4 linked regions of the Homo sapiens genome follow. The protein of the gene in region 4 binds, or shares a complex with, the protein of the main gene of each other region. Each region holds a gene or a part of one and is shown on either strand. Other genes may lie near its edges.

The links. Proteins that work in one complex are often made in the same cells at the same time.
Region 1: RBM48 (region 4) and CWC15 share a complex: the UniProt entries of both Homo sapiens proteins name them as parts of the minor spliceosome.
Region 2: RBM48 (region 4) and SNIP1 share a complex: the UniProt entries of both Homo sapiens proteins name them as parts of the minor spliceosome.
Region 3: RBM48 (region 4) and CWC22 share a complex: the UniProt entries of both Homo sapiens proteins name them as parts of the minor spliceosome.

The regions. Positions count from the first base shown.
Region 1 is NC_000011.10:94,963,557-94,967,056, forward strand, and holds part of CWC15 (spliceosome-associated protein CWC15 homolog), read right to left. Parts: intron 2,858-3,500; coding exon 2,739-2,857; intron 1-2,738. UniProt on the Homo sapiens protein: Involved in pre-mRNA splicing as component of the spliceosome. Component of the PRP19-CDC5L complex that forms an integral part of the spliceosome and is required for activating pre-mRNA splicing.
Region 2 is NC_000001.11:37,540,794-37,544,293, forward strand, and holds part of SNIP1 (smad nuclear-interacting protein 1), read right to left. Parts: intron 1-3,500. UniProt on the Homo sapiens protein: Required for pre-mRNA splicing as component of the spliceosome. As a component of the minor spliceosome, involved in the splicing of U12-type introns in pre-mRNAs. Down-regulates NF-kappa-B signaling by competing with RELA for CREBBP/EP300 binding.
Region 3 is NC_000002.12:179,948,298-179,951,797, forward strand, and holds part of CWC22 (pre-mRNA-splicing factor CWC22 homolog), read right to left. Parts: intron 2,630-3,500; coding exon 2,528-2,629; intron 2,436-2,527; coding exon 2,215-2,435; intron 1-2,214. UniProt on the Homo sapiens protein: Required for pre-mRNA splicing as component of the spliceosome. As a component of the minor spliceosome, involved in the splicing of U12-type introns in pre-mRNAs. Promotes exon-junction complex (EJC) assembly.
Region 4 is NC_000007.14:92,531,795-92,535,294, forward strand, and holds part of RBM48 (RNA-binding protein 48), read left to right. Parts: intron 1-609; coding exon 610-755; intron 756-2,443; exon of another isoform or gene 2,444-2,607; coding exon 2,608-3,176; coding exon of another isoform or gene 3,177-3,290; exon of another isoform or gene 3,291-3,500. UniProt on the Homo sapiens protein: As a component of the minor spliceosome, involved in the splicing of U12-type introns in pre-mRNAs.

The DNA.
Region 1 (3,500 bases), on a different chromosome or scaffold from region 4:
TCAGGAGACAAGAATACTACATGCACTGCAAGGCTTAGTCAGTTACACAGAAAGATGCTCAACATGTGTATCATCTGATGCAGCAATTACACTCAAAAGAATAATGTCATCCTTAATATATAATCTTGCTTTCTTATAGCAAGAATGGCAATTCCTACTTAGAACATTAAAACATTCTTATTATTTCTCCAGTAAAAGAAACTTTTGAGTTAAAAAATAGAAATATATAGATTTTAATTGCATAAATATTTAATGTTTTTAGGTCTAATAGAAAGAAGCAGCACCGAGGACTACCCTAATATTAGTGTAGGCATCTGTACATGATAGTAGCCAATCAATTTAATGTAGTTTATGTGGTTTTGGGGATTGTAGATATTCCTCTTTTATCAGTTAATGTTTAGTAATCATCTACTGTAATATCCACATTATAGGCCAACAAAAGGAGAAGGAATCATTGGGGTATAATAATTAAGGCTCAGATATGGCCCACATATACATTAACCAAGGAGAAGTACCAGCTGAAGAGCTCAGAGCAGAACTCTGGTTGGATTCCATAATGTATAAGCACGAAAAAAAAACACCCATAAATAAGTTATAAAATACATGTGTTATAGAAAATAAAGAGCATGATTTCAGAATATCACCTAGCATATAAAACACAGGCCCATATACATAATATTGATACCCTCACAAATATATATATAACACAAGCCCATATGTGTGTGTTTATGTGTGCATGCGCTTACACGTCAGGAGAAACTGCACATGGGAACAAATGTGGGAAAGTGCACAATGAGCAACAAACGTGGGCACCTTTGGAAAACAGTGCAGTAAAGTCATCACTGATGCAGTACACAGAAGCATAACAAGCTGAGCAGATCAATATGACTGGGATATAAGACATGTTTCTATCTCCAATTCCATTTACATTCAAAAAAGGCAAAAGAACAAACTATATAGCTTTATTTTTGTATATAATCAGTACAGTTTTTTCTGTATCCAGTCTTTCCTCAACTCCAAACAGGCTTTTTGTCCCTCCTTCCCAACACCAAAATGCTCTTTCCTGACATTAGTATTTGTCCTCGATGATCACTCCTCTCCTCCTGAAACACTTTGTTTCACTTCTTTCAGTTCTCCTCCCTTCCCAACTGGCTGCTCCTTGTTAGCCTAGACTTTTTCATTCAAAATTAACTCAATCAATATTTATCAGGCACTTGTATAATGTTTAGAGGCTGGCTAGATGATTAGAACAGGTACTGGTAACTAATAATCTACCTAACCTCTAAACATACCAAGCTCAGTTCTGACTTCTCCTCTCTAGCTATACCCTTCCCTAGGTGACTTCATCCTGTCTTATGGCTTTAAAAAGTTTATCTGAGCTGATAACTTCCAAATCTACTATCTCCAGCTTGGACTAATTCCCGAACTGTATCAGGAGTACTGCATCACTCCAGAGGGGAGAGCAGTCAGCAGTACTGCATCACTCCAGAGGGGAAAGCGGTCAGCAGTACTACATCACTCCAAAGGGGAGGGCAGGTAGCAGTAATGCATCACTCCAGAGGGGAAAGCATTCAGCAGTACTGCATCACTCCAGAGAGGAGGGCAGGTAGCAGTACTGCATCACTCCAGAAGGGAAAGCAGTCAGCAGTACTGCATCACTCCAGATGGCAGATAACAGCAGTAGAGGTGGTGAAAAATAACGAATATGGTTTAAAAATTAAGCACTGTGGTTCCTTGACGAATGCATATAAAATAACAACCAATCTTCCTCCCTCAGCATTTCCTGTAAGCTTTTCTGTTTTATTTTATATATCACCATCTGAAGGATTTACAGTATTTACAACTTATATTTTCTCCCTTTTCAGCCCTCCTTTTTTACCCCTCCAAACACACACACACTGTACAGAATTTAAAAAGCAGGCCTAGTACTACAATCCTTAGAAATGCCTGCTTGCAAGGCTGGCCCCTGGCTGGCATTTGAAAATTTGGATCTAAGAAATCTTCTGTCACTGTGCCTATAATTTACAAATAATGTGGTTTACACTGAACACCTACTATCCTTTTAGGAGTCTGGACTTTGGTATGTGCTAAGCAAAAGCTGCGTACATGACTAGCCACTCCCAGTAAAAACCTTGGGCGCGGGATCTTTAATGGGCTTCCCTGGGCAGAAGCACTGCACACGTTGCTGCACTGTCCTTGCTGGGGGAAACAATGTGCTGTGTGACCACTCATGGAAGGGACAGAGCATAGTGACACCTGCACATGGATTCCTCTATTCTCTGTGTGTGTCTTTTCCCTTTATAATCTAGCTGTGTGTCTTTATTACCTTAGCCAAGCATATTAACTATACACCAAGTCCCCTGAGTTCTTCTAGTGAGTGTCTGAATGTGAGAGGCCATCTTGAGGACCCTTGATATGCACACCTAAAATGTAAGGGCCTCAGTTTATTACTCTGTCCCTAGTGCTTACATCATTATCTAGTACACAGCTGGTTATTGCAACTATCTATTGAAAATAAGTTTATTTTCTTTCATTTGGCTTCTTCCATTATTCCTAATTGAACAGAGAAGAGTATCAGTGAATGGACGGTGGACTTTTAGAAGCTTTTTACAATGCACCTTGCTATCCAACTTATAATCTGCATGCCTGTGTGTATACACATACACATATACACACACACACACACACACACACACACACACACACACACACTCCATTACTCCGTTACTGTATAGTACCTTCTTTTAACTTTGAAGTTGGCCTGAGGCTGGGATGGGCCAGTGAGATTAAGGAGAGGGTTTCCGCTCAGAATGTTTTCCATACGAATCCTCTCTTCTTCAGCTTTTTGTTCTTGTTCCTGTCAATGATAAAGGAAGATTAACACTTACTTATTTTAACTCTGGGTTCAATTTTTTTTATATTAGCTCACTGAAAAAAAAAACAAAACTGATCATTAGGATTTTATGGCAACAAAAGCATCAAGGCAGGCTTTTTTTTTTTTTTTTTGGTTTTTGAGGCATACTAGAAAAGTCTCCCTCATCAAAATAAAATAATTTAGCATTTTTATTATAAATATTTCATGGTTGATATCATACAGTAATTAGTCTCTTCCAACTGTGAAATGCTACAGATCCATATTTAAATCTATTTTCTTTCTTGAAGTACATGTCAAATTAATTGCTTTAAATTTTAAGCATATATCAATAAGCATATTCTAATAATTTAAGAACATATTGAATATCAAAAAGACACATTTAGCAAAACTATTACCTTCATTTTAAAGGGTCATACCTAACTGTGATTAATTTTAATCTTATTTTGAATTACTAATAATGTAAACTTGTGTCTCTAGGTTTGGTGACAAGTTATGAATGAAGAAGTAACTCCTAAAATAGGACAAACTACCATATACAAAATTATATCCAGTTAACATGAATTTCTACTAATTTACCTGAGGTTGATCTATTTTGTTTTTATTGTCTTACTGAGTTTTTCTTTTT
Region 2 (3,500 bases), on a different chromosome or scaffold from region 4:
ACAATCTAAAGGCAGCCCAAATCTTGTTCTTTTTGAACGAAGTGCATGCAAAAAGTCTTGTAATTTGGACTTTGGCATTTAGAACAACATTTCCCACAGAAATAAGATTATGTCTGGTGGTTATGTTCCCTCGCAAGGCCACAAAGATGATATCCCATGCTGCTATTCAACTATAGCCCTAATAGCACAAGTCCAGGTCCACAGCCCTAAAAACAAGAGACTATTTAGTCCAGAAAGGAGAAGGAAAAATAATTCCCTCCTTTTCAGAACAAAGGTAACTATGGGCAAACTTACAGGGAAGAATATACAGAAAATAGAACTAAGAGTTAAGTAGTCAGGTACAAGATATGTAAAGAAAGAAACTAGCTTTCTCTCATGCCAAAAGTGAAAATATAATAGTAAGTTTTTAAATCCTACTTCCATAGTTAAAAAAAAAATTCAATACCTAGAAATAAACTTAAGAAACATGAAAGACATATAAGAAGAAATCTGTAAAAATTCATTAAAATAAATGTTTTTTAAAGATGTGAAGAAATGGAGAAACATACCATGATTTCTTGAAAAAGATAGCAATGAAAATCAGCCTAGGCCAGGCATGGTGGCTCAAGCCTGTAATCCCAGCACTTTGGGAGACCGAGGCGGGTGGATCACCTGAGGTCAGGAGTTCCAGACCAGCCTGACCAACATGATGAAACCCTGTCTCTACTAAAAATACAAAATTAGCCAGGTGTGGTGGCACATGCCTGTAATCCTAGCTACTCAGGAGGCTAAGGCAGGAGAATCGCTTGAACCTGGGAGGCAGAGGTTGCAGTGAGCCGAGATCACGCCATTACACTCCAGCCTGGGCAACAAGAGTGAAACTCCTTCTCAAAAAAAAAAAAAAAAAAAATTCAGCCTGGTAGAAAATGTTTGCAACACAAACCATACAGTAGTCCCAGGGGGATACATTTTAAGTATGGTGGATGGCTGAAACCACGGATAGTACCGAACCTGACTGCCATCAAATGCAACACATTTCTGTTCATGTCTTCCACCCATAAATGTAATGCCTTTTCCATCTTAACTAAGCACTTGTGAACTGTGGCTATAACTTTTACAGTATGAGGTACAACAGCAAAACTAGCATGAATTTCTTTTTCCTTCTCCACAATTTCACAATAGAAGATTCATTCTTACTATCGATCTTAGCAACTTCAATATATGATTTGAAAAGTTTTTTTTTGTTTTAATTTCTTTAAGTTGAGAACTTTCAACTTTTCGTTTAAAGGAAGCACTTTACAGCTTCTCTTTAGCATTCCTAATTGCCAAAATCACTACTATTGCATTTTGGGGCCACTACTAAATAAAATAAAGGTTACTTGAATCCAAGCACTGCAAACTGCAACAGTTTTCTGAAAATCAGGATGGCTACTAAGTGATGGACAGGCAGGTAGCGCATACAGCACAGATACACCAGACAAAGGAAGGATTCACGTTCCTGGTGGGACAGCAGAAGTTTATACCAAGTGACTCAGGATAGTGACCAATTTAAATTTTATGAGTTGTTTTTTTCTGGAGTTTTCCATTTAATATTTTCAGATGCAGAAAGTGAAACCACAGATAAGGGGAGACTACTGCATATTAATATATCAATAAGAAATAATTCAACAGAGAAACTGATAAATGGTCAGGTGCCAGTGGCTCACACTTGTAATCCCAGCACTTTGGGAGGCCAAGGCGATGGATCGCTTGAGCCCAGGAATTTGAGACCAGCCTGGGCAACATGGCGAAACTCTGTCTCTACTAAAAATACAAAAATTAGCTGGGCACAGTGGTGCATGCCTGTAGTCCCAGCTACTCGGAAAGCTGAGGTGGGAGGATCGCTTGAGCCTGGGAGGCAGAGATTGCAGTAAGCCAAGATTCCACCACTGCACTACAGCCTGGATGACAGAGCAAGACTCTGTCTCAAAAATAAAAAAAGAACAGAAAAATGAACAATTTTCAGAAGAAATAAATGTCCAAGGGCCGGGCACAGTGGGTCACGCCTGTAATCCCAGCACTTTGGGAAGCCAAGGCAGGAGAACTGCTTAAGCTCAGGGCAACATGGCAAAACCCCATTTCTACAAAAAATACAAAAATTAGCCAGGCACGACAGCATGCACCTGTAATCTCAGCTATTTCGGAATTTGAGGTGGGATGATCACTTGAGCCCAGGAGGTCGAGGCTGAAGTGAGCTATGATCATACCACTGCAGTCCAGCCTTGGCAACAGAGACCCTGTCTTGAAAAAAAAAAAAAAAGAATTACATGTCCAATAAATACATGAAGATATGCTTACCCTAATAACCAAAGCATCAAATTCTAAAAGAAATATGAATTTTCTCTCCTTAATTAGTAAAATTAAAAAGATCAATAATATCTAGAGTCAAAAAAGAAGGTACAGGAAAAATGGGTATTTTCAGCCACTGCTGGTACAGGTATAAACTAGCATAGCCTATTTAGGTCAATTTGACATTATTTAATCAAAATCTCATCAACCACTAATGCCACTTATAGAAATCAATCCTACAGAAATACTAGCAGAAACGCACAAAGACATACATATGAATGTGTTTACTGTAATTTCGTAATTTAAAAAAAAAACTGGAAACAACCTAATGTCCTGCAATGGTAGAATGGTTAAATTATTATCTATTCATACAAAGGAATACTTCACAGCCATGAAAAAGAATGAGATAATGACATAGAAAGATATCTAATATATTGTTAAATGGGAGGGGAAAAAAGAGAAGGGGCAAGTTTCACAATAAGACCACATATTTCTATATATAGACTTGGCAGATGAGCTACTTGGAGAGATGTTCCCACTATAATTTAACTAGATACTTATTAAATTTTTAATGCACTGTTGGGCTTTCAATAAGCAAGGCAAAATCTCCAATGAGAAAAAAAATCTCCAAAGGGGGGTAAAAAAAAAAAAAAGATTTGAGCCCTAAGCATAAGCTCAAATACTAAAGAATACTAGACACACACAAGGAAATGGAAACAAGCCACTGAGCATGAGAGGCAGCAGAAACAAGTCTTATAGGCTGGGCATGGTGGCTCACGCCTGTAATCCCAGCACTTTGGGAGGGCAAGGGGGGGGGCAGGTCACTTGAGGTCGGTCAGGAGTTCAAGACCAGCCTGGTCAACATGGTGAAACCGTCTCTACTAAAAATGCAAAAATTAGCCAGGTGTGGTAGCGCATGCCTGTAATCCAGCTACTCGGGAGGCTGAGGCAGGAGAATCACTTGAACCCAGAAGTGGAGGTTGCAGTGAACAGAGATGGAGCCACTGCATTGTAGCCTGAACGACAAAGAGAGACTCCGTCTCAAAAAAAAAAAAGAAACAAGAGGCCGGGCGAAGTGGCTCACGCCTGCAATCCTAGCACTTTGGGAGGCTGAGGTGGGTGGATCACAAGGTCAGGAGTTCAAGACCAGCCTGGCCAAGATGGTGAAACCCTGTCTGTACTAAAAATACAAA
Region 3 (3,500 bases), on a different chromosome or scaffold from region 4:
AATAAATAAATGAGGGAAGAGGGACAATACTTTCTTATAGAAGAAATTCAATTACTAGATGTAGAAGAAAACAGACAAATAAAAAATCACCATTAGGTGATTTTTTAACCATCCAAAGATGGATGTTAAAATTAGTGAGTAAAAGCTGGAGGAAAAAGAGATTTGCATAGTATCAAGTTACCTCCCTACAAGACATTTTCACAGAGAAAAATAGTTTCCCTGAAGACATCCAGTGGACACCACCTTACTCAAGTGATCAAGGTTGTCACCCAAAATAAAATTATGAACCTCTTGATAAGATGCACTAAGAACAACACATTGTTTCTAATGTACTCTTGCCAAAAATGTCTAATCTCATTCTAATAAGGAGAAAACATCAGACGAAACTCCATACTGAGGGACAGGTTACAAAATAAGTGACCAGAGGACTTCAAAAGTGTTAAAGCTATTAAGAACAAGGAAAGCCCGAGAGGAACTATCATAGAATGCAGAAAACTGAGAATACAATTAAATGCTAGCAGAATCCTGAAATAAGAAAAACGACATTAGTGGTAAAACTGGTTTTCAAATCACATCTGTAGTCTAGTCAATAATGCTGTTCCAATGCTAATTTCCTAGTTTGATAAATGAACCAGTGTTATGTAAGATGCTACCATTAGGGGAAGTTGGAATGAAGAGTATATGGAAATTCTCTGTACTGTTTTTGCAACTTTCCTAAATCTAAAATTAGCTCAGAATAAAAGGTTACAGTTACAAAGTAAAAAATATAAAGGCATCAGAGAGCTAGTGGAAAAACAAGTACTAGAGGGGCCAAGATGCAGGAGAAAGCAGAAACATTGAGAAGTAAGTGATGTTCTACAGCTACTTTCTCCCTGGGAGCATCTGCTGATTCAGGGATGCTACTGAGGGACAGAGACACCAGAGGTCTGGTAGCCTTGCAGGGCTAGAGAGACAAGAATGGGACTGGTTATTTGCAATACATATATGTACAAAAGATATCATATCTAGAATATGTAAAGAAAACCTACAAATCAACAGAGAAAACAACTTAACTAAAAAAAATTGGTAAAATACTTGAACAGCCACTTGACAACAAAAATCCAAATGGCCAATAATGGATAAAATGGCATTTAACTTCTCTAGTTGAAATGCAAATTAAAACTAAAACCGCCATGCAGTACCATTACACATCCACCAGAATGGCTGAAATGAAAAAGACGGTCAATTTGAAGTATTAATGAGAATGGGAGCTAATGAAACTCTTATACATGGCCGGTGGGAGTGTAAATAGGAATAACCACTTGGAAAACTGACAGTATTCACCAAAGCTAAATATATGCACATCTTATGACACACTGACTCCACCTATAGGTACATACCCAGTAGAAATGTGAATAAATAAATAAGGTCATCAAAAGATATGTACAAGAATATACATGGAAATATCACTTGAAAATCTAAAGTCTGTTGAGCAAAAATGATAAATATATATTGTGGTATATTCATATAGTAGGAAACTACATAGCAATATTACTGAATTAACTATAACTAAATGCAGTAATGCATCTAAATCTCACAAACATAATGGTAAAAAAATAAGCCAGACATAAAAAGGAGTCCATAATACATAATGCTAAAGGTAAAAACAGGCACAATTAATTTATGAAATTACAAATCAGAATAGTAGCTGCCATGAGGATGGAAGGAGTAGTAACTGGGAGAGGAAACACAGAGAACTTCTGGGGTACCGGTATATCTTGATTTGTGTGCTAGCTATGAGGATGTGTTCCCTTTATAAAAATTCATATAGCATCTGAGATCCACAATGAATGTATGATATATCTCAATTACAAACAGCTTTAATATTAAAAGTAAAAAACTAAAATTTATTTAAAATAAAAACATCAGGATAGCTCCTATAAACTAGATTACAAACATTATGAATGGATGGTTCATATCAGTCATCACTCAGATAAGTATCTGCGAATGAAATATTTTCATTTCTATGATGAGGATGTCAAAAGGTAATCCCAGCATTATAAATGTTGTATTACAGACTGCAAGAATGATAGATGGGACCATTTGTATTAATTGTGGCTTTTAAACAACTGATCTCTAAGACAAATAAACAATCAAATTATTTTCTTCCTTCATATATATCAGCAACATATTTATTAGAAAAGAGCAAGCCAAATTACACATAAGCTTCAATACCTGAGGCAGAGCTATGACTACTGATGGATGAAGAGTCGCTCTCTTCACTGGAAGACTCTGAACTGCTATCACTGCTGTCAGAATCAGAGTCGGATGAGTCAGACTCTGAAGAGGAGGACGCTGAAGAGGAAGAGGATGGGGAGGATTTATTTTGCTCAACATCTGGTTTCTGCGCCACAATGACCTTTGGTGTATTTTTGAGATGCTCCCGCAGTTCATCCCTAATTTAAAATATAATCTGTTAGATTCTATTTCAAAGACAATTATGAGATAATTTTATAATCTGAACATAAATTCTGAGAATAATCCTTACGTTAAACCTCCAAGACCTATAGAAGTAAAGAAGTTGATGGCAAACCGAGTGTTTCTTGGATTATCTCGGGGTAATAATCCTTCAAAGAATGGCTGCAGAGTTCTAAAAAGGAAAAAAATAAACAAAAGAGAACACATTGCTTAAAGATAAAAAGGTAAAATCCTTAGTCATTTTTCAGATTTTTCATATATTAAATTACTAAATGAAATACAACCAAGTAACTAGTTGATGTCATTTATTAGGTTAGGCTACGTGCTATCTAAATGAAATGAGTAGGGTCAAGTAATAATGTACCAAACTTGATTTCTATCATTATACAATGTAGGAGGTTTTTAAAAAACTTTTTTTACACACACACATATAGAAAGATAAATATATACACATATATACACGTGTGAATATATATAGTGTATATATATACACACACGTATATATAGTGAATATATGTACAAAAAATTTTAAAAACCTTCTCTGTTGTGTATGTACACGTACACACACATACATAGAACTGTGCCAAGTACTGGGGGAGAGGTGGAAGTCATCAACAAAAGGGAGAAATCAAGGATGAAGACCATATAATTACAATATATATGGAGTGAGACAACCAGAAAGACACTAACAATACAAGGTGGTTTTGGACATTTGGTTTTCAGCACCACACTGAGTAACTACTCAGTGGAGTCAGAAAAAACTTTCTCACAGAAAAAGGTACAATATAAGAAGAATGATTAAGAGTTTCCCAGATAGATCAATAAGACAGGAGAATGCCAGCAGTGGAAACTGAGGTAAGGAAGCATGAAAGAGCCAGATATGTTTAACAAGCTTGGCAGTGTTGGTATGGCTGGAGTGCAGCTTGCTGAAGAGAGAGAAGACGAGCCTGGTCAAGTAGACAGGGACCAAATAAGTAAGTATATGAAGCCAAGAGAAGTGGATGGAATAGTCCAGAGACAGTGTGTGGAACCCAGGAACACTG
Region 4 (3,500 bases):
AGCGCTTATGACATTGCCTGGCATATGGTGAAATCTCAACAAGTATTTATCATTATCCCTGGATATAGAAGTAGTTAAATTTATTGTAGTACCTGGCCAGTCATAGATGTTTAGTAAGTATTTATTGACTGAATAACATTCTTCTCATTTTCTCATTGTTATATATTTAATAGTTCCTCAGTTATTGAATGTTTTATGATTATAGTATCTTTCATCTGATTTTTAAGGCATGAATCCCATCACAGAAATACATAGTGCTGAAAAAGCTTAATTGGGTATGAACCAACTCTTCAGGGCCACAGAGAAAAGCTCCATTTTATGACCACAGTTTACATACTTCAGGCCAACCAGCTGGGTCCTTAGTTGTTTAAAGACTAGGGAACAAAGAGGCTCAAAGGGAAGGAAAGGGGAGGCTCTACGAGTACATACTCGATCAATGGGATGAATACTGTCCACAAGCAGAGCATCTTAATTCCCAATCCACAGGATATATATACACGTAGCAAAAGCTGGACTTTGCTCTTTAGATCCAGATATTGCATACTAGTTAAGCTTTCATCCCAAGTAAATCTAGATTAAAAAACTATGCTATCTTGTATTTCCATTCAGGACAGCCAAGAGAAAAATGGATGAACAGAGTTTCTTCGGTGGATTGCTTCATGTGTGCTATGCTCCAGAATTTGAAACAGTTGAAGAAACTAGAAAAAAACTACAAATGCGGAAGGCATATGTAGTAAAAACTACTGAAAATAAAGGTATGGAAAGCATATTGCTAAATGCCTCCTGTGTGTCAGGCACTCTGCCAGGTGTGTCATCATGCAATTCCCAGTCTAGTGGTAGGAGAGGCAAGTAAACCATCACAGTATTCAGTAACTGTGAACCACAGGGTTCTCTGCAGCACACTACATAATCTGGGTTGAGAAGGGAGAAATATTGGTTCATAGAAGACTTCCTATAGTATGTGAGAAGTGGCTGAATTTTAAAGGATAAGTAGACGTTAACTAAATGGGAGAGGAAAAGATGGAAAGGCAAGCCAGGCAAGATGTTTAAATGTTTAGAGGAATAAATGAGCATCATGCATTTAAGGAACTTTAATTAATACAGTATAACCAAAGCCCAAAGGTTTCAGTGAGAGATAAGTTTAGAAAAGTGGGTAAGAAGTGAATCATGGAGGGCCTTGTGTCCCATGCTAAGGAATTAAGGCTTTGACCAGAATGCAGTGAGAAGCAGTTATGATTTGCAGTTGTCAAATCATATAGTTGTCACTGCTAATCATGGAGAAGTTCTACTTTTGACCAGCAATTGGCTAAATGCCCCCACATGCCTGTTCTACCACATAGTGATGGAGAGAAATAAAGTGGGAAAACTCTTGGAAAACTTACTCAGAAATCTGGTAAGAGAGCTGTTGAGAATCCCCAGTCATCTGCAGACATTGAACTCTAACTTGTAAGATAAGTAAATAAATAGCACCAGGAAAACTTGTATGTTTGTGTGGCAAAGGAAATTATAAAATATTAATGTGGAGAAAGACCTTTGACATTATCTGACCTGGGTCCTAATTTTTCTGGGTGAGGAAACTAAGTCTCAGAAAGTTTGTGACCTGCCTATATTATTAGAGATGAATTAAAGACAAAATAAGGGTTAAAACCCAAGCTTTGGACTCTGTCCAGAGTTTACTTTTTAACTGCTTTAATCATCTCAGTGTTGGTGACAGCCTAGGATTATCTTCATTATTTGCTCCCCTTCCTCTTAAGACCTTTTTGCTGTGCTGCTGACCTCAGAATTAAACTATGACTTGTTTGGCCTTGGACACTTTAGTTAAGCTCTCTTTCATCTGCAGCATTCTAGCCTCTACAAGATGCATTTGTATACGTGGTCTTACTTTTCAAAAACTCTTATTATGGAAATTTCAAAACACACAGGCAGAGAGACTAAGTTAACATAACTCCCATGTATTAATATTAACATTAACAATCATCAACACATAGCCAATTTCATCTTTACCACATCTTCCATACTCCATTCCTGTTGTAATCTGCTTTTGGGAGAGTAAACCAGGGAAGAGGCCCTTGCCAGCCCTAGAAGTGCGACAAGCATATTGCTTTCTTTAGTGACTAACAAACACAAGCCAAGGAGCATGATACATCCAGATAGTGGAATACTCTGAAATTGTAAAAAAAAAAAAAAAAAAAAAACCTTTCTATATAATGATGAAAAACCTCTGTAAGATCTACAGTGAAATGGAAAATGCAGAGGTGCAGAGAAATGCGTATTACAGGTTATCTTAAAGTGGGGAGAAAATGGGAGGAAGGAGGTGGCAAAGTGAGACATATTGAACAGATAAATAAAAAACAATAGTGATTACTTATGGGGATGAAACCAGACCCATGGAGAGCAAGGAAAGGGTGACACTTGATGCTATATATCTTTTTATCCGTTTTAGGTTTTAAACCATGTGAATATATACCCTTCTCAAGAAATGATTTTTTTGGAGTAGAATTTGTTAACATTTTTAAGTGATTTTTTTAAATTATATGATTCTGAATGATGAAAACAATAAACCACTTCTGTTTCCCTTTCCCTCAACTTTTAAATTGTAATATAAAGACCATTACGTGACAAAGAAGAAATTGGTTACAGAGCATAAAGACACAGAGGATTTTAGACAAGACTTCCACTCAGAGATGTCTGGATTTTGTAAAGCTGCTTTGAACACTTCTGCAGGGAACTCAAATCCTTATCTTCCGTATTCCTGTGAATTGCCTTTATGTTATTTCTCCTCAAAATGTATGTGTTCATCCGGGGGACCTGTAGACAGAGCACCAGACTCCTCTAAGGATGGTAGAAACCATCATAAAACAATGGGGCATTATAACCACAATGACTCTTTGCGGAAAACACAGATAAACTCTTTGAAAAACTCAGTGGCCTGCCCTGGTGCACAAAAGGCTATTACGTCTTCAGAGGCAGTTGACAGATTTATGCCTAGGACAACACAACTGCAGGAGCGCAAAAGAAGAAGAGAAGATGATCGTAAACTTGGAACTTTTCTTCAAACAAACCCAACTGGTAATGAGATTATGATTGGACCTCTGTTACCAGACATCTCTAAAGTGGATATGCACGATGACTCATTGAATACAACGGCGAATTTAATTCGGCATAAACTTAAAGAGGTAAGGTTATTTTTAAAAAACTATTCTAAGACACGATTTGGTTATAGGATTAAATGGAGAATTATTTGTGGGAACAATAGTACTGTAATTTTTTTTCACTTTTTAGTGTTTTGATGTGTTTTTCTACAGTTCTCTGTTGAAATAACTGAATTTGGCTAACATTTTATTTGCTTTAAACTGTTAATACTTGCTTTAAACAATGAACAGACATTTTATATCACTGTAGATACAAAATATTAAAGCAGTGGTTTCAGCCAATTAAATCAATCTGTGAGAGTGGAGCCCAGGCCTGCCATTTTTGTTAAAAGCTCCCCAGGTAGTTCT